Regions from separate parts of the Homo sapiens genome. Here regions 2, 3, 4, 5 and 6 are each reported to be linked to region 1. The links are microRNA targets in miRTarBase. Many come from high-throughput screens and were not tested one by one. Region 1 holds a microRNA gene; each other region holds the end of a gene's coding sequence.
What was found. The annotated mature microRNA hsa-miR-6731-5p reads UGGGAGAGCAGGGUAUUGUGGA and lies in region 1 at 2,842-2,863, opposite strand. An mRNA with a match to its seed (bases 2 to 7 or 8) in the 3' UTR can be bound and repressed. Matches are read on the target gene's strand: a 7mer-m8 pairs with bases 2 to 8, a 7mer-A1 pairs with bases 2 to 7 and ends in A, and an 8mer does both.

Region 2: the mRNA of ELFN2 is a reported target of hsa-miR-6731-5p. Seed matches in the 3' UTR shown: 7mer-m8 at 2,363-2,369.
Region 3: the mRNA of HOXB6 is a reported target of hsa-miR-6731-5p. Seed matches in the 3' UTR shown: 8mer at 4,013-4,020.
Region 4: miRTarBase lists SDK2 as a target of hsa-miR-6731-5p. Seed matches in the 3' UTR shown: 7mer-A1 at 3,682-3,688, 7mer-m8 at 1,970-1,976 and 7mer-A1 at 1,484-1,490.
Region 5: miRTarBase lists GHITM as a target of hsa-miR-6731-5p. Seed matches in the 3' UTR shown: 8mer at 4,293-4,300.
Region 6: miRTarBase lists CHST11 as a target of hsa-miR-6731-5p. Seed matches in the 3' UTR shown: 7mer-m8 at 2,327-2,333 and 7mer-A1 at 3,563-3,569.

The regions. Positions count from the first base shown.
Region 1 is chr1:24,916,549-24,921,696 of GRCh38, forward strand. It overlaps MIR6731 (microRNA 6731), which reads right to left and starts at 2,868; the gene lies at 2,797-2,868. It overlaps RUNX3 (RUNX family transcription factor 3), which reads right to left. Exons shown (of 5, transcript NM_004350.3): 3 at 2,692-2,796.
Region 2 is chr22:37,368,595-37,373,742 of GRCh38, reverse strand. ELFN2 (extracellular leucine rich repeat and fibronectin type III domain containing 2) reads left to right here. Exons shown (of 3, transcript NM_052906.5): 3 at 1-5,148. The coding sequence ends at 671. Among named protein-coding and RNA genes, the nearest start is that of ELFN2, 56 kb to the left of the region's middle. RefSeq lists an enhancer at 4,739-5,148.
Region 3 is chr17:48,591,962-48,596,961 of GRCh38, forward strand. It overlaps HOXB6 (homeobox B6), which reads right to left. Exons shown (of 4, transcript NM_018952.5): 4 at 3,790-4,711. The coding sequence ends at 4,452. HOXB5 (homeobox B5) reads right to left here and starts at 1,818. Exons shown (of 2, transcript NM_002147.4): 1 at 1,160-1,818; 2 at 1-495. The coding sequence starts at 1,721. The coding sequence ends at 248. The region is part of intron 1 of HOXB-AS3 (HOXB cluster antisense RNA 3); the gene reads left to right. RefSeq lists a silencer at 1,442-1,491 and enhancers at 1,748-2,255, 1,957-2,026, 2,256-2,761, 3,804-4,475, 4,533-4,702.
Region 4 is chr17:73,333,816-73,338,963 of GRCh38, forward strand. SDK2 (sidekick cell adhesion molecule 2) reads right to left here. Exons shown (of 45, transcript NM_001144952.2): 45 at 569-5,125. The coding sequence ends at 4,772. Among named protein-coding and RNA genes, the nearest start is that of CDC42EP4, 24 kb to the left of the region's middle. RefSeq lists an enhancer at 2,917-3,816.
Region 5 is chr10:84,151,690-84,156,837 of GRCh38, reverse strand. It overlaps GHITM (growth hormone inducible transmembrane protein), which reads right to left. Exons shown (of 9, transcript NM_014394.3): 9 at 3,270-4,574. The coding sequence ends at 4,490. Among named protein-coding and RNA genes, the nearest start is that of GHITM, 15 kb to the right of the region's middle. RefSeq lists an enhancer at 1,013-1,526.
Region 6 is chr12:104,757,413-104,762,560 of GRCh38, forward strand. CHST11 (carbohydrate sulfotransferase 11) reads left to right here. Exons shown (of 3, transcript NM_018413.6): 3 at 1-4,602. The coding sequence ends at 391. Among named protein-coding and RNA genes, the nearest start is that of MIR3922, 170 kb to the left of the region's middle.

The DNA of each region.
Region 1 (5,148 bases):
AGCCGCTGAGCTGGTCCCTTCACTCTTACAGATGGGGACGCTGAGGACCCGAAAGGCCAAGGATTTGTCCAGGGCCAAAGACAAAGGAGTGGGGCTGCAACCCAGGGTATGGGGGGGGACCTGATCTCAGGGCCAGGATATGCCAGGGACAGGAACAGGCAGGTCCTAAGGATGGGGGACCTAGTAGACTGCCCCCCGACTCCATCTCTGCTCTGTTCTGTAAATAAAACCACTGATCCAGCCGCTGCCGGGGCCCAGAGAGGGAGGTCACCTGTCTCAGGTGGTGCAGCAAGCCTGGCTTCTGACGCCGTGGGTCTCCAGGCCCAGCCTCTGTCCCTCCCTCTTGTTGCCTCGTCCTGAGCCACGCATTTACCTTCCAGCTCACCCCAGAAGGGGCCATCTCAGGTCTGGGAGACCCAGGCAGGGAAGAGCAGGCAGGGGATTCTGCTGGAATCTCCCACAGGCAGGGCTGAGTCTCCATGCTCATCCAGGGGTCCCAGCAGGGCAGAGTGGGCGGCTCTGGGGTGGGCTGGGCTGAGCATGGAGGGCTCTCAGAGGGGCCAACCTTGCCCGGTCCCTTGGATCTTCCCACCAAGCGTCAAGACCCCGTCCCGTGCCTCCCTCTTTCTGGAGTGGCTCCCCTCTTTCTGGAGTGGCTTCTGAGTGCCGCATCCCCACCCAGAGCCCAACTGAGGCTCCTGTCCATGCTGACCCTGCCCCTGGAGACATAGGGCAGGGCTGCCACCTCCTTCAATGGAGACTTGATACCTGCACCTCTATTACCAAGGCAGCCACCCAGCTGCTGCCCATGAGAGAGCTCACCGTTGACTAATGGTGGTGGTGGGAGTGCAGGAAGGGGGCTGGGTACTGAGGACGACAAAACGCTGCGGACCCAGTGACTCATGGGACCCCTCTGTGCTACGGCCACGTGCTGTCCACATGTCGCCCCTGATCTCCAGGTCCGCAGGGTGGGTGGCATCATCACACTTCATGGAGGAGGGAGCTGAGGCCCAGAGAGGTCAGTGACTTGCCCTAGGTCACACTGCAGATAACAGCCCTGGCTAAAGTGACGGATCCCTTGCTAACCCCCACCGCTAAGTGCTTTCTATAGATTAAGCCACTGTTTCCTCGCAATAGCATCATGAGGTAGCTGCTTGTGCGAATATCATTTTTCAGTTCAGGAAACTGAGGCACGGAGATGACTAGCCCAAGGACCCACAGCCAGGAAGGCTGGCTTGGAAACTGCTCTCTACACCATGGTGGTCTATGGCTCATGAGGGCTTCCCAGCCATCACCACCTTGAGACTCCTGGAGTCACTGATCCAGTTCTCAGATGACAAAACTGAGGCCACAAAGAAGACATGACTTGCCTAGGGTCATGAAGCCCAAGGCCAAGGGCATGGGCTGGTCTATGTCTGATCTCAGCAGGAGGGAACCAGCAGGAGTGTGGCCAGGGCAAGTGCTGGCTGGGAGCTGACGGTGCAGGCCTGAGGATGCGTGCCGGGGCTCAGGGCTGGCAGAGGTGACCCTGAGAGCCCTGGAGGGAAACTCTTCCAGGGCTGCTGGACTCAGCTCCAAGCCTTTCCCAAGTGGCCAGATGCTGGGATGGGCCCAGGAATTGGATGATGGGGTGTCAGGCCCAGCTGACTCCCAAGAAGGGAGGGGCCAGCCCAGGGCTAGGCCTCCTGCCCCAGGCCTCCTGCCCCAGGCCTGCTCAGCCTAGAATCTTGCCTCTGGGAAGACTGAAGCCTGGGGCGCCTTCCTGCTCCTTGCACAGCATTAGGTCCTATTCAGGTACCCAACTCCCTCAGGCCTGGATTCTCTCCTCACTGGAACTTGGGTGACCCCTCTGGCTCTGCTGTCATCAAGATCCCATTCAATAGTGACTGCTAAAAGGTCTTCTAAACTACAAAGGGTCACATTTCTGAGAAAGAGAGGGGTGGGCCAACCTTCAGTGCACCAAGCTGAAAATGCCTTGGGGAGGTGGGATGGAGCTCAGGAAGCTGGCTGGCTCTATTTCATTCATTCATTCATTCATTCAGTCAGTCAGTCAGTCAGTCATTCATTCATTCTGTGGACACAGAGCCTCAGCCTACCCTCCCACTTCCCCAGCCTTAATCTGACCTTCAGCAAGCAGAGAGAATTAAACACAAACTCGCTTTGATGGACCAGAACTCCCTGCTCATAGGGTCTGGGTGCCCGGACTCTGGGTGACCTGAGCAAGTCACATGCTAAGATTCAAAGACTCAGTTTCCAAGGAAGAGGCCTGGCCTCACAGCCAGACCAGCCCCTGACTTTTGATCACTCCTGCCCTCCATGCATCCCTCAGCCACCCGCAGAGAAGCTGGGGGCAGAGTAAAGCAAGCCTGGCTCAACCTCCACCCAGAAACACACAAGCACCCGACAAATGCCATATCTGAAAGCTTTCTCCATCCTTTTCCTTTCCTTGACTCCCTCAGTAGTCTCCATGGACAGTCATCTCCACTCCCAGCCTCCTCGCTGGCCTCCCACGGTCTCAGGCTAAGCCCAGAGGGTTTAGGGGTTTGCCAGCAGGCACGCAGTGTGTGGGGGCACAGAGCCAAGGACTGCAACCCCCCGAGGAGGGCTCCATCTGTCTGACCTAGCTGCTGTCCTTCCCGCACTGGACCCTCCTCCCCCGCGCAGGGGCTCAGGGGGCTCGGTGGCACTTACGTCTGGGCTCCCGGGGTCCGTCCACGGTCACCTTGATGGCTCGGTGGTAGGTCGCCACTTGGGTGGGGTTGGTGAACACAGTGATGGTCAGGGTGAAACTCTTCCCTGGGGAGAGTGGGGAATAGAGGCAGGTGGTTGGCACCTGGAGCTTCCACAATACCCTGCTCTCCCACCTGTATCTACCCCTGGAAGCCCCTAACTGTCAAGAAGGGGCACTCTGTCCTCTTTGAACATGGGCAGAAGATAGGGCTCTGGGTGAAGTTCAAGCTCTTGGGCTTGGCATTCAAGGCCCCTGGGGGTCTGACGCCAACTTTGTCAACCCCCCGCCCCATGCCGTGACCACCCTGGCTCATGTTCCCCTCTTCTTGGCCTTTCTGCTGTCTCTTCTATTCAGAGACCCACACGATTTTGTGGTGGGGAGCAGGATGGGTATATTCTATTTTCTGAAAGTAATTGGTGATCTTTGTAGAAAAATTCAAGAACATACAAAATATAAATAAAGAAGAAAAGACACCCCCCCCCCACGGTTCCACTAGCTGGAGATAGACACCGTTACCATTTGGTGTTTTCCCTTTCAGCTCTTTTTGTATGGGTTTGTATATTTACACAGTCGCAGTGGTACTAAAATACAGATTTTCATACTGTTTTTTTTTTCATTTAACCTCACATCAGAAGCACTTTCCCACGTCATTAAAACTCCATAAACTTCGTTTTTAATGGCTGCAAAATATTTCAACTCAAGGAAGCCTCCTCATCTTTTATTTATCTACCTCCTTACTCTCGGGTATTTACATCGTTGCTAATTTCTTATTGATGTGTGCAGCTGGAGCTGAAAAAGGACTGATTTGGGAGCTGCAGACATTTCTTCTGTAGACACAACTGTTATTTCCAGAATGTTCTATTTTTAGATAGACATTTGGCTCCAAAGTCTCCATTCAAAATTCCTGAGAGGGGAAAAAACTTTTAAAATACTACTTTTTTTTTTTTTTACCATTTAAAATAAAATGAAAGTGACCTTCTGTTTATAAAAATCTTTGTCTGCATCTCTGCTTATTTCCTTAGAAGAGATTCCAAGAAGCGGTGAGTGATTTCACGGCAGCAGAGGGTTGGGACATATTACGGGCGCGGATCCCTCTTGGAGTGAGATGACTCTCCGGAGAGATTTAGTCGTCACCCTCGCGTGTGAGGCTGCGTCACACCCCAGGGATGTGTCTATCAAGATGGAAGATCTTTTACACGCTCTTGATTTTGTTTGCCTTTTTTTCTATTACTAGTGAGAATGAAACTTTTTATATGATTATTATCCATCATAATCCAACACAAATTACTGCTTCATGTTCTTTTACTTTCCTGTGAAGGTTTTAGTGCCTTTTAAAAATTGCTATATATTAAGCTTGTTAATACTTTCCATGCTGTATTTGTGGCCATCAGTTTCCCCGGGCACAGGCCTGCACATTTTGCCTTCACACGCTGGGTGGTTTTTCATTTTCACTTCTATTTCTCGTTCTTCTATCGTTTTATGTTCAGACGGGTTTCTCCGTGTAGAAAGCAGTTTATGAAGATTTACTTTCGACAGTCTTCTCTCTACTTTCTACAGTGAATTCTCTGATGTGTCTGGGAGTTTGGGGGTCTGGGTAAGAGTCCTCCTCTCACCCTATTCTCTATTACGATCCACAGCCTCATGCTTTATGAGATTGGTGGCCGGGAGCGGGGGAGATTTGCGGATCCCCCAAGCCAGACTTTATCCCCCTATCCCTGCCTCTGGATCCCACGTACAGGCCTGGGAACTCCCTGTGGGTAGGGGCCAATGGTCTCGCACTCTCACCTGTACCCCAGGGCTGGCACAGGATGGTCAAGGAGAGAGGCTGCCCAAGCGCATCCCTCTGGTGTCCCCCTGACACGCCTCCAAAGTGAGCAGGTAGGTTTCAACAGCCCCACGTTGCAGGTGGGAGATGAAGCTCAGGGTGGAGACCAGTATCTCACAGTTCTCTTTGCATGGCCGGGTACTTGTTAGTCAACTGATCAAGTGAAAATTCTAGCCCCAGAGGCAGGAGAATCCGGAACAAAATTAAACCAGCCAGGCTGCCAGGAGCCATGCCACAGGACCCAAGGCCCTCTGAGACACCAGGGGGAATTTAAAGCTCAAGACCCACTGAGTGTCACTCCAGCTGGGAAATGAGGGGCTTCTCTGGAAGCCTTTTCCTAAGCCAGTCGGCTGAGGCAGGGATAGAAATTCTGACTGCACTTGCCCCCGGAGCCCCAGGTCAGAACAGACCTGGTCTCCCACTCTCAGGTCACAGGGGCCACTTTGTATGATTTCTGGAAGCAGAAGTGCAGATGGTCTAGGGAAGTGCCAGGCAGATGCCTCGGGCTCCCTGCCCGACCCCTCCTACTGCCTTTCCTCACTCTGAGGTCATTTCTCTGCTGGACCTCTTTCTCCTCCAACCAGCCCAGCAC
Region 2 (5,148 bases), not on the chromosome of region 1:
GGCCCAGCTTCCTTTCGCCTCCCTACAAGGAGAGCTCCCACCACCCACTACAGCGCCAGCTGAGCGCCGACGCGGCCGTGACCCGCAAGACCTGCAGCGTGTCGTCCAGTGGTTCCATCAAGAGCGCCAAGGTCTTTAGCCTGGACGTGCCCGACCATCCGGCCGCCACAGGGCTGGCTAAGGGCGACTCCAAGTACATCGAGAAGGGCAGCCCCCTCAACAGCCCGCTGGACCGGCTCCCGCTGGTGCCGGCGGGCAGCGGCGGGGGCAGCGGCGGGGGCGGGGGCATCCACCACCTGGAGGTGAAGCCGGCCTACCACTGCAGCGAGCACCGGCACAGCTTTCCCGCCCTGTACTACGAGGAGGGTGCCGACAGCCTGAGCCAGCGCGTGTCCTTCCTCAAGCCGCTGACCCGCTCCAAGCGTGACTCCACCTACTCGCAGCTCTCCCCCAGACACTACTACTCAGGGTACTCCTCCAGCCCCGAGTACTCATCCGAGAGCACGCACAAGATCTGGGAGCGCTTCCGGCCCTACAAGAAGCACCACCGGGAGGAGGTGTACATGGCCGCCGGTCACGCCCTGCGCAAGAAGGTCCAGTTCGCCAAGGACGAGGATCTGCATGACATCCTTGATTACTGGAAGGGGGTCTCCGCCCAGCAGAAGCTGTGACCCCCCCCTTCCTCCCTGGTGAGGTCGGAGCCAGAGGGCTGGGGGCCTTTTGGGGGAAGGGTCCAGGCGGCCAGGGCGGGGAGCAGACTCGGGGGCCAAGGCCCAGGAGAGGACGCACATGCAGACCCGCACGCACGCACGCACACACACACCTGACCACCACCCGACTGTGAACAAACCAACATCCGACAATAACGGACAGGAAAACAGAGACACATTTTCCTTAAAGTTTACAAACTGATACCGAAACCAGTCGTCTTTACTGTGCTGCCCAGGGACTCTGCTGGGGTGTGCAGGGCCGGGGGGCTGGCGGGGGGAGGAAGGAAGCCAAGAGAGGGTGTGGGGTCTGGGGGGTCTGGGGCTAGAAACAGGTGTGGGGGTCAAGAAAGCTGGAGTAGAGAGGGACTGAAGCCCCTCTAGGGCAGGGAGAGGGTCCCTTCCCAAGCTGGGAGTCAAGTCACCTGCAGATTTAGCATTAGACATCGGGCAATGTCTCCTTCCACTTTAGAGAGGGGGGGAAACTGAGGCCCAGAGAAGGGAGTTGACAACCCCAGGGTCACACAGCAGCTTAGCCTCAAGTCCCCCAACTTCCCAGCCCAGTGCTGTCCCGGAACCCCCTGCAGCTCTCTTGTGGACCCCTGCCCGCCCTGTGCCCACCCCACATCCCTTTCCGAAGCTGTGGTCCCTTGGGGCTGAGGGACTTGGGAATCAGGCAGGTGCTTTTTCTTCCTAGAAAGCCACATGGCAGTGCCCCCAGAGTGTGCAGCTGTGATTCAGAATCCTGGGGGGCTTTTGACCCCTATGCCGGCACCCGGGAGAAGGGAGAGGGTCCTGTTGACGGGAAAGGAGCCGAGGCAGGGCGACATTCCACCAGCCCACTTCAAGTGTCTTCCACGTGGCCTGGGAAGAGTGGGGCGTGTGGCGGGCAGGCCAGCTCCCAGGACGTCTCAGGTGCAGGCTCCCGGCCCCAGCTTCTCTGGTCCTCCGAGACCCCTGCCCACCGCAGAAGGGCAGCGGTGCACTGTGATGCCTGGAGGGCTGCAGGGAGGAGCTGTCATGGGGGACTTCCTGCCTGTCCCCATGGCCTGTGTCCCCACCTGCCCGACCCCATCGTGGGATCTCGGCTCCTATCTCAGCCGCCCACCCGGGGAAGGAGGGCTTTCTCACCCATCCCCTCTGGGCTGCTCATCCAGGCCTGGCCCCCTGGCCAGAGGGGCTCCCATGTTTCCGTGGCAATGGCCACTTCCCTCTTTCTGACCCCCCCACCCAACATCAAACAAAGCACAAACAGTGAGGCCCCCACCCGAGAGAGGGTTGAGGAGCAGGCTGGGTTCGTGGCGCCCCAGCCCCTCCCAGCCAGCCTCTGTCACCATGGTAACCCTGTGCCTGGCAGTTGGTGCCCAGAGTGACCGTTGGGCTCTGGGGTTCTCTGTCCATGTAGGCGGTGGCAGAGGGTGGTGAGGGAGGGCCAGCCTGGCAGCAGCTCCTGGGGCCAGCTCTTTTGGGAGGCAAATCTGCGGTCCTGAGACTGGGGTCTTGACCAGTCAGGATGCTGATGGGCCGGAGTCCATCATCCTTCACCTCTGGGTGGGAGCTGGCCCAGCGGGGTGTGGGGACGCCTCTACTAGCAGCTTTGCCCGCCTAGCAACATGTCGCTTGGCTGCCACCCACCTCAGCTTGGGGGGCCCCGGCTCTCCCCACGCCCCTGCCAGAGACCCCCAGTCTAGGGCCTGTGGCCCACATGGGTTTCCTGAGATTTGGGGAGTGTGACTGAGGGGCGAGGGTAGGCACTGGAATGGGTCCAAGACCGGCACTGTTGGTGGGCAGGGGCTCTGACCAGGAAAGCTAGTGCCATCCCCTGGGGACCCCAACGACCTTCCTGCTGGGGGCAGGGGGTGAGGGAGGACAGCAGAGGGCTAGGAGGCTCGGGCTCAGCTGAGTACCTCTCTCACACCAACTTTGGGGTTAACGAAGCCCAGGGCTCACTTTGAGGGTGACATTTGCAAAGAAAAGACTGTTCTCCTGGGGCGAGGAGGGGAGGGGGCGGCATGGATACGCGGAGCAGACCTCCTCCCCCGGCCCCCAAAACCTGCCCCCCAACCCCTCCTCACACCCCCTTGGCACAACTGAGAAAAGCAAGCAGGCAGAGAAGCCAGGGGTGTGAGGAAGCAGACTCCCTGTTATATTTGCATGACGATTTTACTGTATTTTTCTGAGCAAACATCTGTCGTGTATGTGCCAGTTTGTCCAGACTCCCCCGCCCCCTCTCTGATGCCCTGCTTTCCCACATTCTGTCTGTTGTGATCTGACGAGCAGCTCTTGAAACCCAGGGAGGGGTCAGCTCTGCAAAAACAGACCCAAAACAGGTGCCACCAAGACACAGCCCTGCCCCACACCCACCTCCTGTGTTTCTGAGCATTGGGCCCATGTGCCACCTCCCTTCCTCCCTCCCTCTCTCCACTGCCACCTCCCTTGTCCCCAGTTCCTTCCCCTCCTCCATGCCAGGGAGGGCAGCCCCAGGGAAGCCTCCTCAAGGGCTCTTGTCCCGGTGGAAGGGACTGTCTGTCCGTCCCGCTTGTTCCCGTTTTGTAGATGAGGAAGTCAGGGCTCCCAGACGGGCCTGGTGAATTGGCTGGCCAGCTGGGGTGGAGGATCAGTCACACTGCTGAGTGTAGGAGGCCAGGAGCTTGGGGCTTCGTGGGGGGCTTCAGGGAGAGGGTGGGGGCTTTGAGAAAGGAACCCGTGGGAAGAAGGAGCACGCCTGGGCTGGGCCCCAGGGAGGGTTCCCAGCAGCAGGAGTTAGGGGCCTGCGCTTGCCATTTCCCCATCCTTTCTGCGTGAAGATATTTAGGAAACCTCAGACTCTCTGACTGCAGGGACAGGGGCCCTTCCAAAGAGCAGGACTCTGATGATCCAGGAGGGGAACTGGCCTTGAAGACCCAGTTCATGTGGTTCTTTGTGAGGCAGAGCGGGGTCTAAGACTCGGGTCTCTGGCCTCCCAGCCAGGCCAGAGCCCCAACTGCTCAGCTTGGGGAGAGCCCACCCGGAGGCTGGCCTGCATCTGTGTCCCACGTCCTGCTCAGGATGAGTTTTTCCCAGGCGGGAGGGAAGTATTCACAAAATGTTGCCATCCAAGGTCTGGGTTTGTGATGATGATGAGCATGGTGGAGCTGGGCTGTGGTCTGGGGCAGGCCAGCAGGGCAGACACCAGGAAAAGAGGGCAGGGGGGGCCACAGGGAGGGAGGGGAGATGGAGGCCCGGTGGAGCGAGGGATGTGTGGGTGCCACGCCCTGGACCTCTGCGGGGAGGCCTCCTGCCTTGGGCCGGAACAAGGTCACACCTGGGCTTGCCTGCCTCTGTTGGAGAATCTCCTCTGAAGCTGTTTCTGGGAAGTAGCACAATGGGTCTGCTCCTTCCTGGGAGGGCACAGCAGGTGCAGCTAACCCTCTGTTGGAGCTTATGGCCTTCCAGTAGCAAAACACAGAGGTCTGGCATGAAGGCAAGAAAGCCTGGTTGGTGGGGAAACCTCGTCACGGGTCCCGGCCTTGCTTTTCCCCGCGGCAGGAAGAGTCTCTCTCTGCCCACCAAAGAATCCCTCACCTGGGCTCCCCTCCTGAGGCAGTGCAGGAGGCCTGTGGGAGCAGCCTGTGTCCAGGCTGGGGAGCCCGTGTCTGGGTAGGTCTGGGAAAAGGGCTGTCAGGGGAGCGAGGAGGGTGGGAGTAAAGAGACCTGCTTGGGAAGGCCAGGCCTGGATCGTCCCCGGGAGGCAGCTGGGGCAGCAGCAGTGGGGAGTATCAGGCTGGCCGAGAGTCACCCATGTTCTCAACTGGAAGTTGGTCGCCTGCCCCACTCCCTCCTGGAAATGTAACAGCGGGGTGAACAGAAGTGCAGAGACGGAAAGGAGAGGAAAGGAGACCTAGAGCTGACAAACTCGGTTGTGACAGTGCTGAGGCCGGGATGGCATCAGGAATTAAGGACACCAGTGACAGGTCCTAGCTTATAAGGGGCCTAAGTGCAGGGAAGGGATAAGACACAATGCTCCCTAGTGACTGGCGCCTTGCAGAAAATTAAAATAGGGTGATGGGGGAGGGGCAAGGCTGGTCAGGGAGCATCCTGTGTGGGATGGGGGGACAGGGAGCCAAGCTGTGAATGACAAGAGGAGCCAGAAGGGTGGGTGGGTGGGTGGGTGTGAAGACGAGACTAGAGGGAGTGGGGTTGCAGTGGCTGCCTGTCCCCCAAGCACCGCCTCTGTCCCCTACTACCCTGCCCCTGCCCATTCCTGGCCCAGCAGAGCCCCCTTTCCATGAGTGTGGATGGGCGGGGCAAGCCGTCGGGGAGCCTGGGGAAGCTCAGCCCTGAGGGGCTTACTTTGCCCGTGGAAGCCAGTGTGAAGGTTAGGGCAGCCTTGCCTGGCTGGCCCCATTGCCACCTCTCCTGTCTGACAAGGTGGCTGCTCCAGAGGTGGCTGAGCCCCAGG
Region 3 (5,000 bases), not on the chromosome of region 1:
AGAAGGGAGTTGGGAGCATGGAAGGAAAATAATAATAATAATTATTATTAACAATAATAACAAGATAACCAGTCCAGGAGAGAGGGAGCCACAGGAAGACCTAAGACCAAACGAAATATCGTAACACAAGGCGAGGCAGGCTTGTGGGAACCGGTCCCCAGCGGGCGGCGGCAGAGCGGGGAGGATTGGAGGGGCCAGGGCTGGGGGTGGCACGGGCTCTTGGGCCGCTGGGCTCCTCTGGGCGGGCTCAGGGCTGGAAGGCGCTGCCAGCTGTAGCCAGGCTCATACTTTTCAATTTGTTGTCCTTCTTCCACTTCATGCGCCGGTTCTGGAACCAGATCTTGATCTGGCGCTCGGACAGGCAGAGTGCGTGGGCGATCTCGATGCGCCGTCGCCGGGTCAGGTAGCGGTTGAAGTGGAACTCCTTTTCCAGCTCCAGGGTCTGGTAGCGGGTATACGCGGTCCGGGCCCTTTTCCCGTCCGGCCCGGTCATATCTGGAGCAGATAGAGGAAAGCCGCAAGGCAACATTATTCCGGTTAAGGGAGGGGGCACTGGGTGGGAGGGGGCGGGGGAGCAGGACCCAGGCGTCCCGGCACCCAGCTCACCACAGCTCCAATCCTCTCTACTCCAGATGCCCACATTCAAGCTCGATTTCTGCACCCCTTTCTACTGCATCCCCCACTTCTGCAGGCAGCCAGTGCGCCCGGCTTTGTCTCTTGCTCGCTCCTAGTGCCTCACCCTTGGCTGGGCTCAGGCGGCCGCTCGCCCCGGGAGGGAGGAGAGCGGTTGCACTTTTGCCCCGGAAAGCTCCTTTTACTGTTCACCCCTTCTTTGCTAGCGACAGTCTCAAAATTTCAGGGGTAAGCAGGACCCTTCCCCACATTATATGAACCCCATCCTTTATCCTAAAGCTGGTTCAGCTGCGCTAATAAAAACCTAAGCCGAAGCTGGAAACAAATTATTAAAAATACCCCCCTCTTAACAGAGAGACCCTTTTTGGCTCTGTCTACGAAGCTATGAGGCCCCTCTTAGATACTTCTCCCCCTTAGAAAAATGAATCTATATTTAGGGTAAAGCCAAGCTCTCCTTGTCCCCCCGATCCCACCCCAAAACGCAGAGAAGGAAAGCCGAGAAGACAAAAAAGAGAGAGAGAATTACCATGGCTGATGTGAAGCTTCCTCATCCAGGGGAATATTTGCGGAGTCTGCCCCTCGGGCGCGGCTGTGGAGGTGGCCATGGGCTCTGGCTGCGCCCGAGCTAGGCTGGGGCTGCTTAGCTGGCTTGCCGCTTCCTCAGGCTCCGAGGACGCGCTGGCCTCGTCTATTTCGGTGAAATTGGCGCTGGAGCTGGCTGAGGTCGCCTGGTCGGAGGGGGACGAAGCAGAGGGCTTGGCGCCGTGGCTGTCGCCGTTGGTGCAGGGCAGGGACTCGGGCGAGGACAGGGAGCAGCTCGAAGCCGCTTGCCTGAAGCGGGGCTCCTGGGCGGGCGCGGGGAAGGCGCGCGAGCTCTCGCCCACCGCCCCAAAGTGGCTGGAGGAGGCCGAGGAGCGGTTGACGCTGAGGTCCATCCCATTGTAATTGTAGCCGTAAGAGCCGGTGTGCATGGCAGCGGGATCCCTGTAAGAGCCGCTCAGAGAGCTGCCACTGCCATAATTTAGCAACTGATAGTCCGGGCCATTTGGATAACGCCCCGAGAAGGAGTTTACAAAGTACGAGCTCATTTGGGTGATTTTGGAGGGCTTGATTTGTGGATCGTGGTCGTTATAACCCTGTGCTTCACGATTTATGATGTATTAATGAATTATAGCGATGCACTGTACTTCGTTTTGCTATGTATGCGGCCAAATATGGGGGGGGGGTTGGAAGGGGGGTGGGGGGCGTTAGGGAATCACGTGCTTTTGTTGACCAGTCGTAAATTCTCGCTGATGACCTCAAGAGGTAATTCATGCTCTATGGTTACAAATAATGACGATCCGAGAATCGTTAGGGCCGATTCAATGCGAGCCTCCGAGAGAGGGGGAAAAAAGGAGAAGGGGGAGAAACAGAGAGAAGGTTGGCTTTGGCCTCTGAGCAGAGCGCGCCACCTCCCGGCGACCGACGGGAGCGCGGGCGTGAGACCGCCATGGCGGCGGGCGGCTGCCTCCCTGCTGGCTCCCTGCAGGCTCCCTGCAGTCGCCGGGAGAGAAAGAAACCCGGCCAAGGCTCAGCCACAGGGTTGAGCCTTTTAGAGCAGGGGTTGGGCTTTTTACCCACTTTCTTGTGGGTGGGGTTAGCCTCTCTATTTGGTTCTTTCTCCCTACATCATCATTGTCGTTATTATTTTAACTTTGGATGAGAAGATCAAAGATAGAGTTGCTTTTCCCTTTCTTGGGCTTTGCAAGTCTCCGAATTGGAGGCGGAAATGGGGGAAGGGTTGGAAGTTGTGTGTGAAAAACAATTATTGCAACGGGTTTTCCCCAGGAGCTTAGTCCGGCCTGCATCCTGGTGGAACTGCTGTTACCGGTCCACAGCGCCCAGGCCGAGCCGGCAGGGCTGGGCGGGAGGCTTGAAAAAGAAGGAGAAGCGTTCACTTCTCCTGGGCCACTTGGAAGTTCGAAATCCCCTTCCGGACCTCCTTGGTGGTCCTTAGCCCAGGCGTGGGGAGTGACAGAGCAGGACAGGGACCCCAGAAACCGAGCACAGCTGGGGCTAAGCGGCCTAGTTGCCGAAAAGACTGCAGCGGCCACCGCGTCTGCTGCTTAGTTTGAGTAGTAACATGTGTCTGAGAGTTTGTAAAGCGGGATCCCTTCCCCTCCTCCTCGGCTATTGCATTCGGAGGCCCCACTACAGGTCCCTCACTCGCAGCTAGGCAGTTTGAGAATTTGCCTGGTGGCAGCCGCCTTCCCGGAAAAGGGGTTCCAAGGACCCGCATGCTTTGCTGAGCACGCTGGGCGGCCAGAGACCGCCGCAGCTGGTCTCCTATTAGGAGGGGACTATTTTCTTTAAAAATAAGAAAGGAAGCGAGAGGGCGGAGGAATAAAGGAAAACAGTGACCGCAGCTTGCCTTCTGGGTGCCGGTGCAAGCAGAGAGAGAATGAGCCATTCTGGGTTGAGAGGATGACACTAAAAGCCCCATCACCTGGCCTCCTGCCCTGGGGTCTCCAAGGAGCAAGGGAAAGTTGTGGCCTTCGGCCTGTGCCTGGCTGGTGGCTTTACATTCCCCTACTTGAGGCTGATCTCCTACTTGAGGCTGATCTGCTACTTGAGGTGGGAAGGGGCACCTGGAGCCTTCAGCTGCAGGGTGAGAGATACCCAGTGGCCCCATTTTTCAGTCTCCAGAGCCACAGGCCAGGAGCGGAGGGCCAAGGCTGGCGAAAAAACCTGGCCATGTGGACGGGCCAAAGACCAGGGGTCGCTGCGAAGGTGAGGACAGAAAAGCGCTGCAGAGGCCCCCAGACTATGGCTCCGTCTCCGCCAGAGAGCTTTAGGGGCCTCAGTGGCTCCCTTAGTGCTGTGTATACACGAGGAAAGGCTAGAGAATGAGAGGGACACAGCACCTCTCCATCCCCCAAGTCTGCACGGGGAGAAGCGGCTGTGAGCCTCAGCACCAGGGAAACGCAGCGCTGGGGCCTGGGCAGGACTGATCGCTCCAGCCTTTATCTCAGCTGTAACTTCCCAGTCGAACAGGGCTCGCTTCGGCGGGCCAGGGCTCTCGCCTTTGCTGAAGAATTCTGGCTCAGGAAAGATGGAGAGGCTGGGGGTTGAGGAGAGAGGAAAAAATGGCAGGGGAGGATTGGAGGTGACCGAGCGTCGAGTTTTCACATCTTTATTATTGTTGTTGTTGTTGTTATTATTATTATTATTATCATCATCATCATCATCATCATCATCGAAGTATTTCACGTCCAGAGCTAAGACAAGACTACAAACACAACACATAGAAAATTAATAAAATAGAACTTTGTTTTCTTCTGAGGCTCCTCTTCTTACTTCTAGGTAGTATGTGCTCCTTCCAGTGGCTTTGGGGAGGGGGTGGGAGAGACGACAGGTCTGGGATCAGGGAGTCTTCAAGGCCCCCGCTGAGGGGACAGCGAATCTACCATTGAACCGTGCACGGGGGACATGGACAAAATGAGACGCGACAGGGACAAGAGCATTTTGCTCTGCTTCCAGGAAACATCAAGTGAGTCCGCTCCTCAGTTCTCACCAGGAAGCCTGATCAGGCTGAGGCGAGTTCCTCGGGAAGGAAGGGCGCGCGGGATGCTGGGTGGGCTCGAGTAGTGAGGCCTCAGAGCACCCGCCGGGAGCTGTGCGGGCGGGGGCGTCCAGGAGAGCGCTGGGCCCCGCCTGTCTGCGCCGGAGAGCAGGTCTCCTGGCTCCCCCACCCGAGAGCCTTCCTTCCCGGGTCTCTCTGACGCCCTCGGCTCCCCACAGGCCTTTCCCCTCGCGTCCTCCCTCCCTTTCCAGCACCTTCACTCGGCCTGTTTTTCTTCCTCCTCCTCGGCACTGAGCTGAGACGCGCTGAGCAGTTTGCTCTCCTTTTTCCACTTCATGCGTCGGTTCTGGAACCATATCTTGATCTGCCTCTCCGTCAGGCACAGGGCGTGCGCGATCTCGATGCGCCGCCGCCGCGTCAGGTAGCGATTGTAGTGAAACTCCTTCTCCAGCTCCAGCGTCTGGTAACGTGTGTATGTCTGGCGGCCTCGCCGGCCGCTGGGCCCAAAGGAGGAACCTGTTACGCAGAGTGGAGATGCTGAGGCCTGCGGTCACCGGGCCCAGGACCCCCTCCCCTAGTCGACCCTCGAACACAGACTCCAGCCAGTACCGGGATGCCCTCTATTCTGCCGGCTCCCTTCCCCCGTTTCGCACTCCTCCAGCGCCCCCTCCAGATTCCCTCCTAGTCTCCTAGGCCTGTGCCGTCTGTCTAGACTCTAGATGGGGGAGGGGAGGAGCAGTTTGAACTCCCACCTGAGCCTGGGGGGAGGGGCTGGTCAGGTGTGTCTCTTCCTAGTTGCATCTTG
Region 4 (5,148 bases), not on the chromosome of region 1:
AAACAACATAGCATTTCTCATGGCATTAAGATCACTGGGAAGTGGGGTGCTAGCTCTGTAGAAATTAAAATAAAAATGGACAAGGAGCTTGCCTTAAAATATCAGAGAGGCAGCATTATGTTTTGAGAGCCAGAAGGCTTTAGTACAAATCCTGGCTCCACCACTCCCCGAGGGCAAGCCACTTAAAGTCTCCCTGTCCCAGGTTTCCTCCTTGGGACTGTCGCAAAGATTCCATGAGTTAATAAACGTAAAGTGATTAGAACTGTGCCTGGCACAGAGTGAATGCCATAGACATATTAGCTATTGCTATTATTATTATTCACTATAATTTGCACATTGCATCAAGTAGGTTCTTATTCTAAAAGTTTAAAATAAATAAAATAGTGCATTTCACTGGAAGGCACTCACTTATGCATTAAGAGAGCAGATAAGTCAGACCCTTGACTCTTCTCTGCAAAAGCACAGCATGGCTAAAAATTGCTGTCTGGGGAATGAACTGCTTGGGTATGATACTGGGACAGGTGACCCCATTCATGTAACAGGAAGGAAAAGAATGTTGCTTCAAATCTCCAAAAAAAAAAGTTTATTTATAAAATACTGACAGTTTGACAGGACACGGGACTTCTTGTGGTATATATTTCAAATCAATTTCTTTCTTACCTTTCATTTAAAAAATAAACCTGCTAACACGCTATATGACATAGAGATATATATTTTTTTCTTACAGACAGACACCTGCCATAATGAATACTCTCCCCATAATTTTTTGTTATATCTTTTAAATCAAAAAATAAAGATTTGTGTTGATTTTTGTTTCTGGAGTCTAGATGGATGGAGAAAGGTAACACGTTTAAATGCTTTTGGTTATTCTGATGGAAACAAAGAGAAGGGGGGTGGTCCCGAGGGGGCACCTGTGCTCAGGTGGTGGTCAGGATTGCCATGTGCGCATGCCCATGGGTGTCCCTGGATAGGGCCATACAGAGGCACTGGGGAGCGGGTGGCGGCTGCTCAGATGGTCTCCCCTTTACCTTCCTGCCCACCAGCCCCTCACCCAGGGTAGGCACCTTCAGATGTGCACTCTGGGAAGCTGAGGGAAGCCCCTGCCCAGCCAGAGTGGCACTGTGGTGAGGCTCTGGCACCTTTAGAAGCACTGCCCAGGGAGGCGTGGGCAGCAACAGAAGGCCTTGAGGCAGCGTGCACCAGGTGGGGGCAGCCCCCGCTGTGTCCTTGTTTCCTCTAAATCACGGCAGTGCCAGGTTTGGGGGTAGGAGTTTTGGGGGCCGGGGGGTGAGGGATGGACAGAAGGGGAGGCAGCCTGGGTTTGCAAACTCTCTGGAGCCCTAGGAGGATGGTGGTTCTGGAGCCCAGAGCATCTTTTTGGTTTGTCTTGGCAGTGTGGGTGTGGAGCTGACGTCAACTCTGGAGGCGCAGCCAGGAAGGGGAAAGCCCTGGTGTGCCCAGCATGGGCTCCTGGGTGCAACACTGGGAGATTGCTTAGGGCACAAGGAGGCAATGCCAAAGGTGCCAGGTGTGTCCTGGTGTGAACCTGCTTTGGGTGGAGTCCCACAGGCAGGGGCCCTGGCATCACTGGCACGGAAAATCACAGGCCAGAAAGGGTCCCACTCTTTCTACAAAGGGCAGGGCCCACCACCCCTTTCTAATGTGGCCAGGTTTCTGGGAGGACGGTTGGGAGCCTCGGCTGTGCCAGTAGATATGTAAACAAGGGCAAAGAGACGTGTCCTGAAAAAATCTAGAGTTCCACAGCTGCAGGCCTGGGCTTCCAGCTGTGGCTGGGGCTGTGGAGACAATATTCCAGATGAGTGGGTATTGACTAAGTGTGGGACTTTCACCATGGGCCCAGCCTGATCTCATGGGCTTGTCTAAATTTGCGTGGTGTCCTCACCCTCTCAGACAATAGATCCCAGCCACGCCCCAAGTGCAAGCAACCCAGGCCACCTGTGCCTCACAGGGGAGAGATGGCTTCAGCCATCAGAGGGAGTTCAGGAGTCTCTTTGCTAACACACATACAGATGTGTGTTCTGTGCATATTTGTGTGTGCATGTGTGTAAGCACAGGCGTGCATGGGCACCATCCCGCATGTACACGTAGGTGTCAGCATGGGTGCGAATGAGCGTGTGGGGAGTGGGGGGGTGGAATATCTTAGTGCACCAGGTGATTCATTAAAGGCAAAGGAAAATTGACCTCATGTGCAATATATACACAGACACAATGTTTTTACTCACTCCTGCTTCCTCCCAAATAATCCCTCACTGGGCTGGGCTTAAATAATTCCCTAATGCAAACTGGGAACTTCCTTAAATGGTTAAATGCTCAGCAGAGAGGGAAAGGGATGAAGTTATTTAAAAAAAAAAAAAAAAAAAAGATGAGAGGAAAGAAAAGAAAGCTGTGCGGCACGATCACAGGCCGGCAGCTGCAGATGTGCTGCCATGGAGATGCCAGATGCTGCAGAGGGTGGGGGCGGAGGTGGCAGGGGTGGAGCAGGTGTCCAGCTGACTCCACTGCAGCCCCCAGACAAGTCCAAGGAGGCCCCGAGAGCACCTTACTTCCTGGAGGGGCAGAACCTCAGCCCTTGGTTCTCCTTTGGGGAAGATTGTGCTTCCCTTCCCAGGCCTCCTTATTGGAGAAACCGCTTTTTGGACACTGGAGCTGGGCTGGCCTGTCTGCTGAGCCATCTTCCAGCATCTCCCCGTTCACATTTCCCAGGGGTCAAGTGCTTCAGGAAAAACTCATGGCTGGGTGTGCCCGTTCTTTGGGCCCCAGACCCTGACTTCCCTTCCCGGTCACCATTAGCACAGTGACTGACTTGGGGCTGTAGGAGAGTGGTCCAGGCTCTCTCTTACCTTGGCATGTTTCCCAAATCTCCTACTTGGGCTTCCTTGAACTCTGCTCACCCACCCCAACAGAGCATCATCTCTTGGGCAGGGCCAGCAGCGCCTGTACACAGTGCACAGAGGGAGCCCTGCTCCACGAAGGGGCTCACGCTGAATCAGACAGGCCCCTGTGGGCCATCTGCCACCCATCTCAGCGGTGGGGCAGGTGTTGGGCTGGCCTTACAGGGCTGGCTGAGGGCACAGAGGGCCTTGGACAATGTATGGAGTTAGATAGAAAGGCTTCTCCCTAAACCCTGGCATCCGTAAGTACCAAGTGGACGGGAAGATCCTGGCCACTGGATGTGGCTTTTTGCAGAACACTCCTTGGAGCAGATTGTGTATGTGTATGTGTGTGTGTGTGTGTGTGTGTGTGTGTAAAAGCATTCCCTCCCATCAGCTATTCTTGTCACTTGGTCCCATCTGACCTGCCCCTGCTGGGCGTGCAATTCAAATGCTGGGTCCACTTTGGACTGAGCTTCCTGACCTGCCCCTTCCCCTCCCCGCCCTGGCCAGGCGGAGCCCAGCCTGGAAGCTGTTACTGGGGGTTAGGGTGTCTTTGCCTTTTTGCCTGTAAACTGGGTGCTAGGCTGACTGAGCAAACTCTGGGTATTCCAGCCTCTGGACCAGGGACTTGGGCCACCCCTCTGGGCTCCTGTGCCTCTGTGCTTAGGAGGCTGCCGGGTGGCAGTGAGAGGGACACAGATCTGAAAGTGAGTGTGCTGTCTGGCTAGGAGGGCCCAGATGAGTTTGTTCTGGAGAGGATCCCTAGACCCTGTTCCTTGTAAGTGCATGGGAGATGTGTGTGTGTGTGTGTGTGTGGTGAGGATCTATCCAGTGGAGAGTGACGTGTCTGCCCAGAGGGAGATCCCTCAGCTGTGCCCCACTCCCCAGCCTTGGGAAGCTGACTACCCCTTTAAAGAGAGGACGGATGGAACCTGGATTGGAAGAAAGAGAACAGTCAAAGTGTCATTCTTATCTTGCCCACAATGCGTTAAACCTAATCATCCCACAGTGCCAAGGCCAGTCGCCTTATTTACACCTCTGCTCCCCAGACTTCACCTTTCCTTGTCCATGCTCAGGAAAGTCAATTCCAGCACAGGGAGGCAGGGGTCAGTTGTGGGGGGTTTCTCCCCTACCCTTGGGCTCTCTTCCTTGGATTCAATATTTTAAAAAATATGCAGGAACAAGGAAGGCGCTAAGCAAATTCTCACCCTTTAGTTTTTTGTTTTTTGTTTTTCTTCCTTTTTCTAAATAAACCAAATGCTTGGTGGAGAAGTTGAGCAGGGGAGATGGGCAGTAGAGGTTGCCAAGACAGGGCAGGGGGTCTGGATGAGGCTGTCCGATGCCTGCCAGCCACAGTGATGGTGCATGGAGGGAAGGAGGAGCAGAGAGAGAAGATAGGCGTGGCCTCCGGGATGCCCATTCTTTTTGCAGAGAGCAGCGGCAGTGGGTCCAGGGGTCCTGGAGGGGCTGGAAGGGGGCAGCTGGCTGGACATCCAGAAGCTTTTTCTTCCCTCGGCCACGCCTGCCTGGCGGCCTCCAGTCCTTAGCCTCCGCTCCCTCTCTCTCTCCAGATGCCCGCCCCACTCCGTGTCCATAGCAGTGACACAGCCACTTCCCCAGCTCCGTGTAATTCCCAAGGGAGCAGTGAACCCCACCATCTCAAAGCTGAAGAGCTGCTGGCCACACACATCCTCTCACGGTTTTCTCCCTCCTTCTGAACGCCGGCTTTGCTGGCCCTGGAATCTCTGGAAAAATAAACTCAGGAGGTGAAAAGTTGACTTGGTTTCTTGGTGTTTTTGTTTTCTGGCAGGCAGTGAGAGGAGGGGTGAAGGAGGAGTTTGGTGCCATTTCTCTTTCTGCTTTTTCCTCTTCTGATGTCAAACAAATGATGAAAATCCTGCTATGGGAGCCCGGGAGCCTGGGGCCAGGCTGCTGGGGGGACGGTAGAGGGTGCTCTGCTGACTTGGGGGGTTAGGGGGGTTCTGGGGCGTTGGAGTCCGACTGGCCTTGGGCCGAAAGAGGCTGCCCTGCTGGGTGCTGGTGCTGTTGGTGACGGTGGTGTGGTCTGGCTCACCCGAGTCGCTCTCCGTGTAGCTGTAGGCCTGTGCCCTCGAGATGCCCTTCTGCTGTCGCCGCCACGAGTTGTAGTATGTGGGGTCACTGATGTAGTGGTTGACAAAGGAGTGGGCCTTCTGGTGGTTTGAGTCGACCTCGTACTCGCTGTCACTTCCCTGGGAGGACAGAGAATCAGGGT
Region 5 (5,148 bases), not on the chromosome of region 1:
CTCCCCCACCAGTCTTTTATTTAGGTTCATTTTTGCTTGTGGCAAAAAATACTCTCTTCATGGTTCTCAGATGTTAATGAATTGAATGTTCACCGTCCATCTTCCTGAATTGCTTCACAAAAGAATCTTACTTTAAAGGTGGAAAGTCCTCAAGGTCATAGCTTTCTAATCTATTCCTGAAAAGTCATTTCCATTTTGTGCTAGTTAAAAATGGAATGCATTTAGGATTTCATCTTATTGATGAAATTGACCTTAAAAAATGGTCAATTTTGATTTGTAGCTCGGAGTGAACTGGGCAATACAAAAAAGGACTATTTTGTACCGTAAGAAATAGATGTGAGGAAGGCACGATGATTTCCAGTATCCTTCACTGAGGTCAATTTTTTTTTCACAGAAAACTAAAATGTTCCTGTTCTATTTCCTTTAATTTACTCAGAATACTGATTCCCAAGATTTTAAAAGTGACTTACACTTTAATAGAATCTCAACCTATTTAATTTGTATAGTGCTTTTGTGATTCTCAAGCAAAATTCTACTTCTTCAACTTTTACTTTGGATTCATGGAATACATGTGCAGGTTGTTACTTGTGTATACTGCGTGATGCTGAGGTTTGGAGTACCAATGATCCCATCACCCAGATACCGAGCACAGTGTCCAATAGGTTTTCAACCCTTGCCCCACTCCTTCCTCTAGGAATCCCAGGTATCTATTATTACCATCTTTATGTCCATGAGTAGCCAATGTTTAGTTCCCATTTGTGAGAACATGGGGCATTTGTTTTTTTGTTCCTGGGTTAATTTGTTGTTTGTAACAGGATGATGGCCTCCAGCTAACTCTATAAGGACAAGCTTGCTTTCTTTTATATGGCTGTGTCCTACACGATTTTAGATCTATCATCTATCCTCCCGGCATAATTGGTTAGGGAGTTTGTCTCATTATTCTTCCCAGCCATATGACCTTGTGCAAAGATCAAACTTTGGGCAAAGAGTTCAATTCAAACATCAGCTATTACTAGTGTAGCTGGGCCACCCTACCCCACTGGAATTATATGTCTTGGGTATCACTCAGTTTTAGTACCTTTAACCTGGACACGTTACCCAGATACAATTTCAAGGTAAACATGCCTGCCTGTCTTCCTAGTTTTTTTTTTTTTTTTTTGCCCAGCAGGAGTGCAGTGGCACAATCGCAGCTTCGAAATGCTAGACTTAAGCAATCCTCCTGAGTAGCTGGGACTACAGGCATGCGCCACTGCACCCTGCTGATTTTTAAATTTTTGGTAGAGATGGGTTTTTTTGTTGTGCAGAGTGGTCTTGAACTCCTGGGCTCAAGCAATCCTCCTGCCTCAGCCTCCCGAAGTGTTGGGATTACAGGCATGAGCCACCACGCCTGCAGGTTTTAACATGTTAAGCAAAGCACACACCCGCAGCAAGTGGGAAATCCAGCTTCAAGAGAATTTCCATTTCTTACCATCTTTTTCCACTTTGTCCATCTCTCCCTGCAGCCCTCCCCCATCAAGCATCCATTGTATGAAATGCCCATACTACCTTTTTCTGTGTGCTTTACCTACTATGCTTACTCTTGAAAATTTCCTCCTGGGCCATCTTAGAAACTTATTATTCAGTCTGCATTTCCATTTTGCTTACCTTTCTGTGACACTCATCCAATGGCCTATGGCCGTGTTTACACGGATTTGATATGCTTTAGAAGGCAATTACTTTTATTCATCATTGTCTCCCCTGGGCCCAGCTAGCATGGCACCTGTTACATAAAAAATTCATGTTTTCTGACTGTTCAGTAGATGCCATTTTAAGCAACAACTCAAAGGGCCTTTTTTCTCGGGATTATTTTAAAACATGTTTCATTTATCCTCTAGTATTTCAGACGATGTCAGAAAATGAAAAATGGACATTTACTTTTTTACCTAAAGCCTATCACTTTGCAGGTCATTACTCTTCGCTGTGAATGAGGAAAAAAAAAAACAAAAACTCTGTGGTATGTTAAGAGCCAAGAAACTAGTGATTTTTTTCTATTACCATTTACAACTGGTATGTTTTACAAACGATCACATTTTATATATCAGCTTACCTTTTATATGTTATTTATTTATTTATCTTTTTGAGACGGAGTCTTGCTCTGTTGCCAGGCTGGAGTGCAGTGGCGCGATCTTGGCTCACAGCAACCTCCGCCTCCTTGTCTCAAGCGATTCTCCCGCCTCAGCCTCTCAAGTACCTGGGACTACAGATGCACACCACCATGCCCAGCTAATTTTTGTATTTTTAGTAGAGACAGGGTTTCACCATGTTGGCCAGGATGGTCTCCATCTCTTGACCTCATGATCTGCCTGCCTCGGCCTCCCAAAGTGCTGGGATTACAGGCGTGAGCCACCGCACCCGGCCACATTTTATATATTATTTTGCATAGCCTTCATTGTCTTAGCAAAGTCAGAAGAAGTCCAATAACATAATGTCATTAAATTAACAACAACGACAACAACAACAACAAAACAACCCAGGATGGGGGCAGTGGCTCAAGCTAGTAATGCCGACACTTAGGAAGGCCAAGGTGAGTGGATTGTTTGAATCCAATTTAAGACCAAACTGAACCCCTCTATTTAAAAAAAAAGTAAAACAGTAAAAAAATCCTTGGTTTTCTAGATAAACTGCCTGATACCATCACTGAAATGATATCATTTTGTGTGTGATATTAATTTAAAAAAGACATAAACTTTGGGTTCTAAAAGGTGACTAAGGAAAACAGGCACTTTAAGATCACACTGATATGGGTATCAGGATGGGGAGAAGAAAAATAGAAAATTGGCATTTACATTTTTACTAATAAAAAAAAGCATCAATAGCTAAGACTTATGTAATGCTTACTAAGTGCCTGCACGTTTAACCATAAACCTATAAGACAGGTTCCAATATATTCATTTTACAGGAGAGGAAACTGGGCACACAGAGGTTAAGTAATTTGCCCAAGGTCACATAAGAAATAAGAGTTGAGATTCAAATAGAGGTAGTCTAGCTACAAGTATCATGTACTTATCACACTGCACTATACTATACTGGCAAGAAACTAAGTTGCTTTCTTGAAGAAATCCCTATTCAAATGGCATGCATATGATTCACTTGGAAAAATTAGACTAATCAACATCTGGCTGAAACCTTTGTTTCAGAAATAAGCCTCCTATGTACTTTGAGATGATTAACAGTATTTCTGCATTACTGTAATAAACATTTGTCAAAAAGAGCAATCACCTCAGTCATCATACAGACTTCTTTCCCTTCATTAAAGACTTCTAAATATAACTCTTCTGTATCAAAGAACTTACAAATGTCTCAAGAAAGTAATGGTGTAGCAGTGTAAGAGAAGTAAAAGTCTGCTAGGGGAAACTAATGAAGCATTTTCCTCATTACACTTTTGGGTTGATATATTTCATTAAGACAGAACTAGTTCTGTTTTGCTTTGCTTTTTAGTGCTTAGTCTGAGAGGCAATGCGAGAAACCAAAAGTCTTAGGAGAAAAACTGCTTTCATAATTTCCAGTGTAAGCCACAAAGAAGCTTTTCTATAAAGGCTTGAAAGCTTGAAGAGGTGACAAGAGCAAGCTGTATTCAATTAGACAGTTCAATAAATATGCAAAAATAAAAAAACACTTAGCAATCATGAGTATACTGTTTGTATTCTGGAAAAAGCAACATATTTCATGCTTTGAATATTTTCTCTTGAGAATAGTTTTAAAGTTATTTCCTTTTGTAACATTCAAAAGTAAAACACACATATATAATTCCATCAAGGATTCTCTGTATGATTAACATTCTGTACAAGTCAAACATGACCACATCTATATTGGAAAGAGAGCACTGAGAAGCAACAGCAGGAGAATGCATCACCTGTGCCTGTTTCAGGATGAACAGTTTTGTTAAGTTCAGCAGATGAATGTAACAATGACCACTTGTTTCCAAATACCCAGATGTTTCTTACTGGCTCCTCACTAATCAATAACACAAGTGCTAAGTTCTAAGTATTTAAAAAAACAAAAGACTGCAGGTGACTCCTTCTCTCTGGTCCCTTTACCAAAGCTCCAAATCACTTATGACATTAATTACAATATTCTGCACTCCAAAAAAATATGCAAACACAGGTTTGCTAAATTTTAGTTACTCAGTGAACCTACTAAATTTTAAAGTAGAAAAAAGACTTACATTCTCATGACACAAACTTTAGTTTTCACATTCACCAAAACATTTTAAAATCACTCAAACATGAGAATTGAAAATGTGTGTGCTTATTTGGGAGAGGATTACTGCATTTATTCTCCAGAAAAAAAGGCAGACCTGAGGCATCACATTACCGGAACATTTAAATATGATGACATGTTTCTTATCTTCTAAACTTCAACGAAAGCTGCTTGTACAAACTATTTAATGCATATCTGCCCCATTAAACAAGATATTTGATGTAGCAGAGAAGCCAGAAGCTGAGTCACTTCATTTCTTTCTGTTGCCTCCAGTTGCCAGCATAGTTGCAACTCGCATAAATATATTTAATGTATCCATGTAGATACTCAGCATCCTAGAAAAGAAAATTATGCCCATTATATATGATGCAATTCTAATAGTGATGTTGAATTCTTAATATAGAAAAGAAGAAAAATACTATTTGTCTTAGTGATATAAAATGGAAATTAAAAATAAGATGTTTAACTGCCAACTAATGAAGTACTAGACTAGAAAATAGTTAAGGTCTTCCTTTTGGCAGACTCATCTTTTAAATGTTAAAGAGCAGTTTAAAAAAATCATTATTTTATTCTCTGACACTCTGCATATATCAACTTGCAAAGAAAACTAGGTGGCAGACAATGAAATAATCAAAACAAGACCAAAGAAACACCTTTATAAAAACCTGTTAGACACAAGTCTAGCATTTTTTAATATAAAAGACCCACTTCACCCCTCTAAAGAAAACTTCTACAAATCTGTAAGCTTTACAGTACAGCAACTTTTTCTTCCCCCTAAACCATTACATTAAGTTTTATTTTTAGATAAAATCAAATTACTTTAAAAAAATGTGACAGACACAATGAAACTCAAGAAAATTGTTTAAATAAAATAACCCACTTTGGTCGACTCCAAGAAAAAAGAAAAAA
Region 6 (5,148 bases), not on the chromosome of region 1:
CGCCACCCAGGAGGCCCTGCGCAAAGGGGACGATGTCAAATTCGAGGAGTTTGTGGCCTATCTCATCGACCCACACACCCAGCGGGAGGAGCCTTTCAACGAACACTGGCAAACCGTCTACTCACTCTGCCATCCCTGCCACATCCACTATGACCTCGTGGGCAAGTACGAGACACTGGAAGAGGATTCTAATTACGTCCTGCAGCTGGCAGGAGTGGGCAGCTACCTGAAGTTCCCCACCTATGCAAAGTCTACGAGAACTACTGATGAAATGACCACAGAATTCTTCCAGAACATCAGCTCAGAGCACCAAACGCAGCTGTACGAAGTCTACAAACTCGATTTTTTAATGTTCAATTACTCAGTGCCAAGCTACCTGAAATTGGAATAAAGGGGGTGGGGAGAGGGAGAGAATCATGCTTTTTAATTTAAGATTTTTATTTGTCAAAAGAATTATATGGATATTGGGTTATTTTGTAAATTAATATTTCTTTGGGGATGATGCTGCGAGCAGCATAGTGAGAATTATTTAAAATCCTTCGTAGGGAAGGACAGCTGTCTTTGCAGGGGAAATAGGATGGGTCGTCCTTGTCTGTAGAAGTGAATACTGCAACACTGTCTCAAAGGTTTCTTGTGTTCTGGTGAATTCCATGAATTGTGCATTCCATAAATTCTAATTAATATTATTTATAGTTATTTAAACATGGTCTCATTATTTCTTTTTGTGGCAGCAAAATTCTAACATCTTTCCAGAAGAAATCTATGATTCCTGCTTTGCTTGCTACAGCTCATTTGGGGGCATGAATGTTCTCCTTACTAACCTCTCATGGAGTCATGTGATAACAGCCATTGTCATGTGTATGGATGCCACCATTCTTGAATTTCTGCTAGAAATAAGTAGGTTGCTATTGCACTTAGAGTCATCTTTGCAAGGGACTCATTCCAAACCAATTCCAATCGACCTGAAAGTCCCTTGCACTAAAGAAATGTGATTTTTTTTTAACCCAAGGAGAAAGTTGGTTGTAACAATTTTTCACCAGAATTAGCAATCTGATAGAATAGGCTTTTTTAACAGGAATTTTAAACTGGCGGTGCCAGTTGCAGTGAAGGTGAAGTGGCTATTGCTTTATATTCGACAAATATTTATTGAGCATCTACTATATACTAGGCCCTGAAGATAGAGCGTTGAACAAACCCAATAGTCTTGGCCCTCAAAAAGCTTTATGTGACATAGAGCATCCAGCTCGACAATTAGCAAACCCCTGATATTATTCATGGACTTGACATGAGGTTTGGACTATTCATGAGCAACAGCAGAAGGTCCATGACCCCTACAAATTTACATTTTTCTATGGCCCATATTTGAAAACCTCACATTCGGAGCAGGCCACTTTATATTCGTGAGTGATCCCAAGCTCACTGACCAACAGAAAAGATGCTAAAAAAATGTGTCCTATCATGTGCCTGCTCCAACTGATGGGTAATGTCTGCCTTTAAGCCCCAGAATGGATTCTCCAGGCACAGTGTGGAAGAGTGCTGTGGTTGATTAGCAATGTCTGCCTTGGGTGAGGAAAGGGGAACACTCCTCAAGTGCCTCCTACTGTCATCTCCATTCAGCCTAGCACCACATCCCCATGTAGAAGTGTTGTCTTCTACTGCTTGCCACGTACAAGTGTGAAATGCCAAGGTGAGACTCGTACACTTGGGGATTTGCAATGGTTTTTACCCCTCATGAAGGTCAGAGGTGGACTATTTGTACACATACACACATGCACACCCTCTCACGTCCTCCAGAGGCTGAAAGACTATCAGCATCTTGGTAACTGCCATGCATGAGCAGCAAGGACAGCCTTCCATAATCCATGCCCCATTTCCTCTGGAAGCCTGGAAACTTTTCATTTCCTGTTCCTTGCTAATTAACATCTAAACATGCTTCTCATTTCCAGCCATTGCTGATGCTTCTCAGTTGAAGTTTGAGCCACATCCCTCTTACAGCTAGTGAATGAGTTGGTAGCAGCTACTGTATATAATAATAATAATAGTTTTAATAATAGGGGAGGGTGGGATGGGGTGTGGGTAAGTTTTGCCTTTTGTTTTGTTTTTGATGCCGTATATAGTGAAGGGGTGAGGATATTCTAAACAAACAAAAATTGAATAATTTATTCACAGAAACTATTAAGATTGTATTGTAAAGCTCACAGCAAGCTCAGTGGGCAGCAGCTGCAACATCTCACCGGGGAAATTATTTTATTTAACGTGAGTGAGATGTGGGCCGGAGAAGGTAGCTGAAGCTATTTATAAAACGTTGTGTACCTTCTTCCGAGCTCTCTCCCCTTTGTGAAGGGCGCAGCAACTATACCCTTGATGGATGGAGATTTACGCAATGTGTTTTACTGGGTAGAGTGACAGACCTTGGCTGTCCCTGGAATTGAGAATCTGGACCTTATTTCCAGGCAGAGAACACTGTCCTCAGAAATGGGACTTCTGATAATGAAACAGGTTGTCCAACATTTTCTAATACGCATTCTACAGAACACAGGTTCCAGGAGGCATCAGGTTGGTGTGATGCAGACTAAGGGTTTTGTGGTCAAATATCCTTAAGAAACAAAGTTAAGTCAGTTTCCTTTCTGCAAGGACTTTTCAGCCTTCAATGTGTGCTGTGCATGGTGAATCCCCAAAAATAATCCTTGAGTCTGTAGCATTTCCTGAACTTACATGACCAGGATACTCTATTTTGCAGATCACCCCACAGAGCTAGGGTTCCACCGAGTATACTTTGCTTAGGTTGACTTAGCATATCTGAGGTCTTCAAGGATAAAAACTGCCACCCCAACACCCTTCCATTAAAAAAAAAATACAAAATAGCACCACAGTCTCCATCTGGTTTATAGCAACAGAGGTACTTTATTTAATGAAGCAATGGTTCTAATCCTGGATACTGCCACGGACTACAATTCTATCCCTCCCAGAGGGAGTGGAGGAAGTCTTGGGTGGTGTGGACAGAAGGAAGAGAGGAGAGGGTGAGTGGGGTATAGGGCCCAGGGTGGCTCCCTACTCCTCAGGCTCAAAAGGATGCTCAGTGGGAACAGATGATCTCTTGATGAGTGCTTCTTCAGTTTCATAGTTTGGAATCGTTCACTGTGTGCTTTTTGGGGGGTTTTCAATGGAAATTCACGTTGCTTTGCATTTCTGTGTCCGTCTTTGGTCAGTTGTGCAAGCCTGCTCACTGTCATGTGAAGATGGCCTTTCATCTGGCTTCTCTCTCTTAAGTGAGAAAGATTGTCCTTCAGGGGACATGACATCAATAGGTTTCTGGAATGAGGGACTCTTTCTCCCCGTGTTTTGCTTTGTGTTCACATTTTCTTTTCTAATGGCATTGAAACTTTAAAAAAAATGGATTCAACTGTTTTTGCAGAATGTAGAAAGTATTCTGTGTCCTTGGTTAAAGAAATCCACTTGTGAAGTGTGCCTGGAAAATGAAAGTTTGTGTTTTTTAAAGAGGAATATTTGAAACTGCTTTCTATGCATGCTTAGCTGGAGAAAAGTACAGGCAGGCGTCCCATCTCCCAGCCACTTCTCAAAGGTGCTGCTGTGTTTTAAAGACCAGGTACAGCCAGGGCAGTATTTGCAAGGACATTCCTGCTTACTTTATCCCTTTGGTTGGAAAGCTCTAGATGATTCCCGCAGCTCCTCCAGACCCCGCCTCCCTGCCCTCCCCAGCTGGTCTGGGAAGAGGTGGTCTGCTGACCTGTGGTATCTCAGAGGGGACGTTCCTCCTCCTCCCTGTGCACCAGGTGGGCTGCACCCTCCTGCCTATTCAGGATGTGGATGCCACAGGAGAGCAGCAGGCAGTGGAAACTTCAGTTGCACTGGTTCTCCTGGTGGCAAAGGCATGAAGCACAGGGGTCGATTAATCCAGGCTACTAGAAAGCTCCAGAGCAAAGTGTGCGGGTCCCACAAATGCTTGGCTGGTGGGGTCTGGATCAGTGCTGAGATAGAGTTGGCAGAAGAAGCAGAGGCACTCTGCTTGCTTTCCTAGCCAGTCCTCCCCTACACACACACACACACACACACACACACACACACACAATCTCAGCTGCGCCATTCTGTGCAATCCCAGTGACCAAATCCCTTCCTTGCCCACCTCTATGTCAGCAGGACTGACCACATCACTCCCCCGAGTTCCCACCACCAGCATTTCCTCCAACCTTTTTCCATCACAACCAGTTAGAACCCTACAGGCAACAAGGCCTTCTAGAATCCGCTTAACCCTTGGCTGATAACAGGCAAATTTCAGTCTGCTACACTTTGTTAGGTCCAGAAGGAGCTGCCCATACTACTTTCTTATGAGCATGCTCAGTATGGCATATGGACATGTAATGTCACATCTTTGTGGAGTGTGATTTTCTTTTTTCACATATTTGTATGCAGTAGAGAGCCTGTTGTAGAAAACGCTCCCTGTATCTTGCTGTACTGTTAAAGAAAGCTGAATTCCACATTGCCAACAAAAGCGTGAAAATGTTCATGAACCTTCCTCCAGGAAAAGCCATTCAAGCCTGATTATTTTTCTAAGTAACTTCAATTAAATTGAAGAAAAAAGAAGCTGCTTTCTGTGTATGGTTTGCTCATGGCTCATTAACAAAAGACTGTAGGGGTGGGGTGGGCCGTGGACCTTAGCATGCGGGGGGCCCTGCTCATGTGTATCAAAGGATGGAGATGCAGGCTTCGTTGGAAGACTCAGCCCTGGTAAAAACCGCCATAGATCCAAATTCTTTCTGTTCATCGGGTGAATGGAAGCTTTTCTTCTTTCCATTTTTTCTATAAAGTCTTTGTAGACTAATGCATTAGAAGGTGCACTGTGATCACACAGTTCCACCACTCGTGTGAAAAGGCATGAAGGCTGTCAGTAAATGGCTTTGGTGGCAGAGCCAGTATTCAAGCCCAGGTTGATGTGCCTTCAGAACTCCATGTTTTTGGCACTGAATGACATGCCTCTCTAAATGGCCATCCATGGTGCCACTGCTAGGAAGTTGCAAGCCTGCACTTCAAGTCCCAGTTTTTCAATTCCAAATCCAATCCTGTTCTGATTCCCCACATAGCTTATTTCGGCTCTATGGATGAGCATCTTTTAGCTTTTTTTTTTTTTTT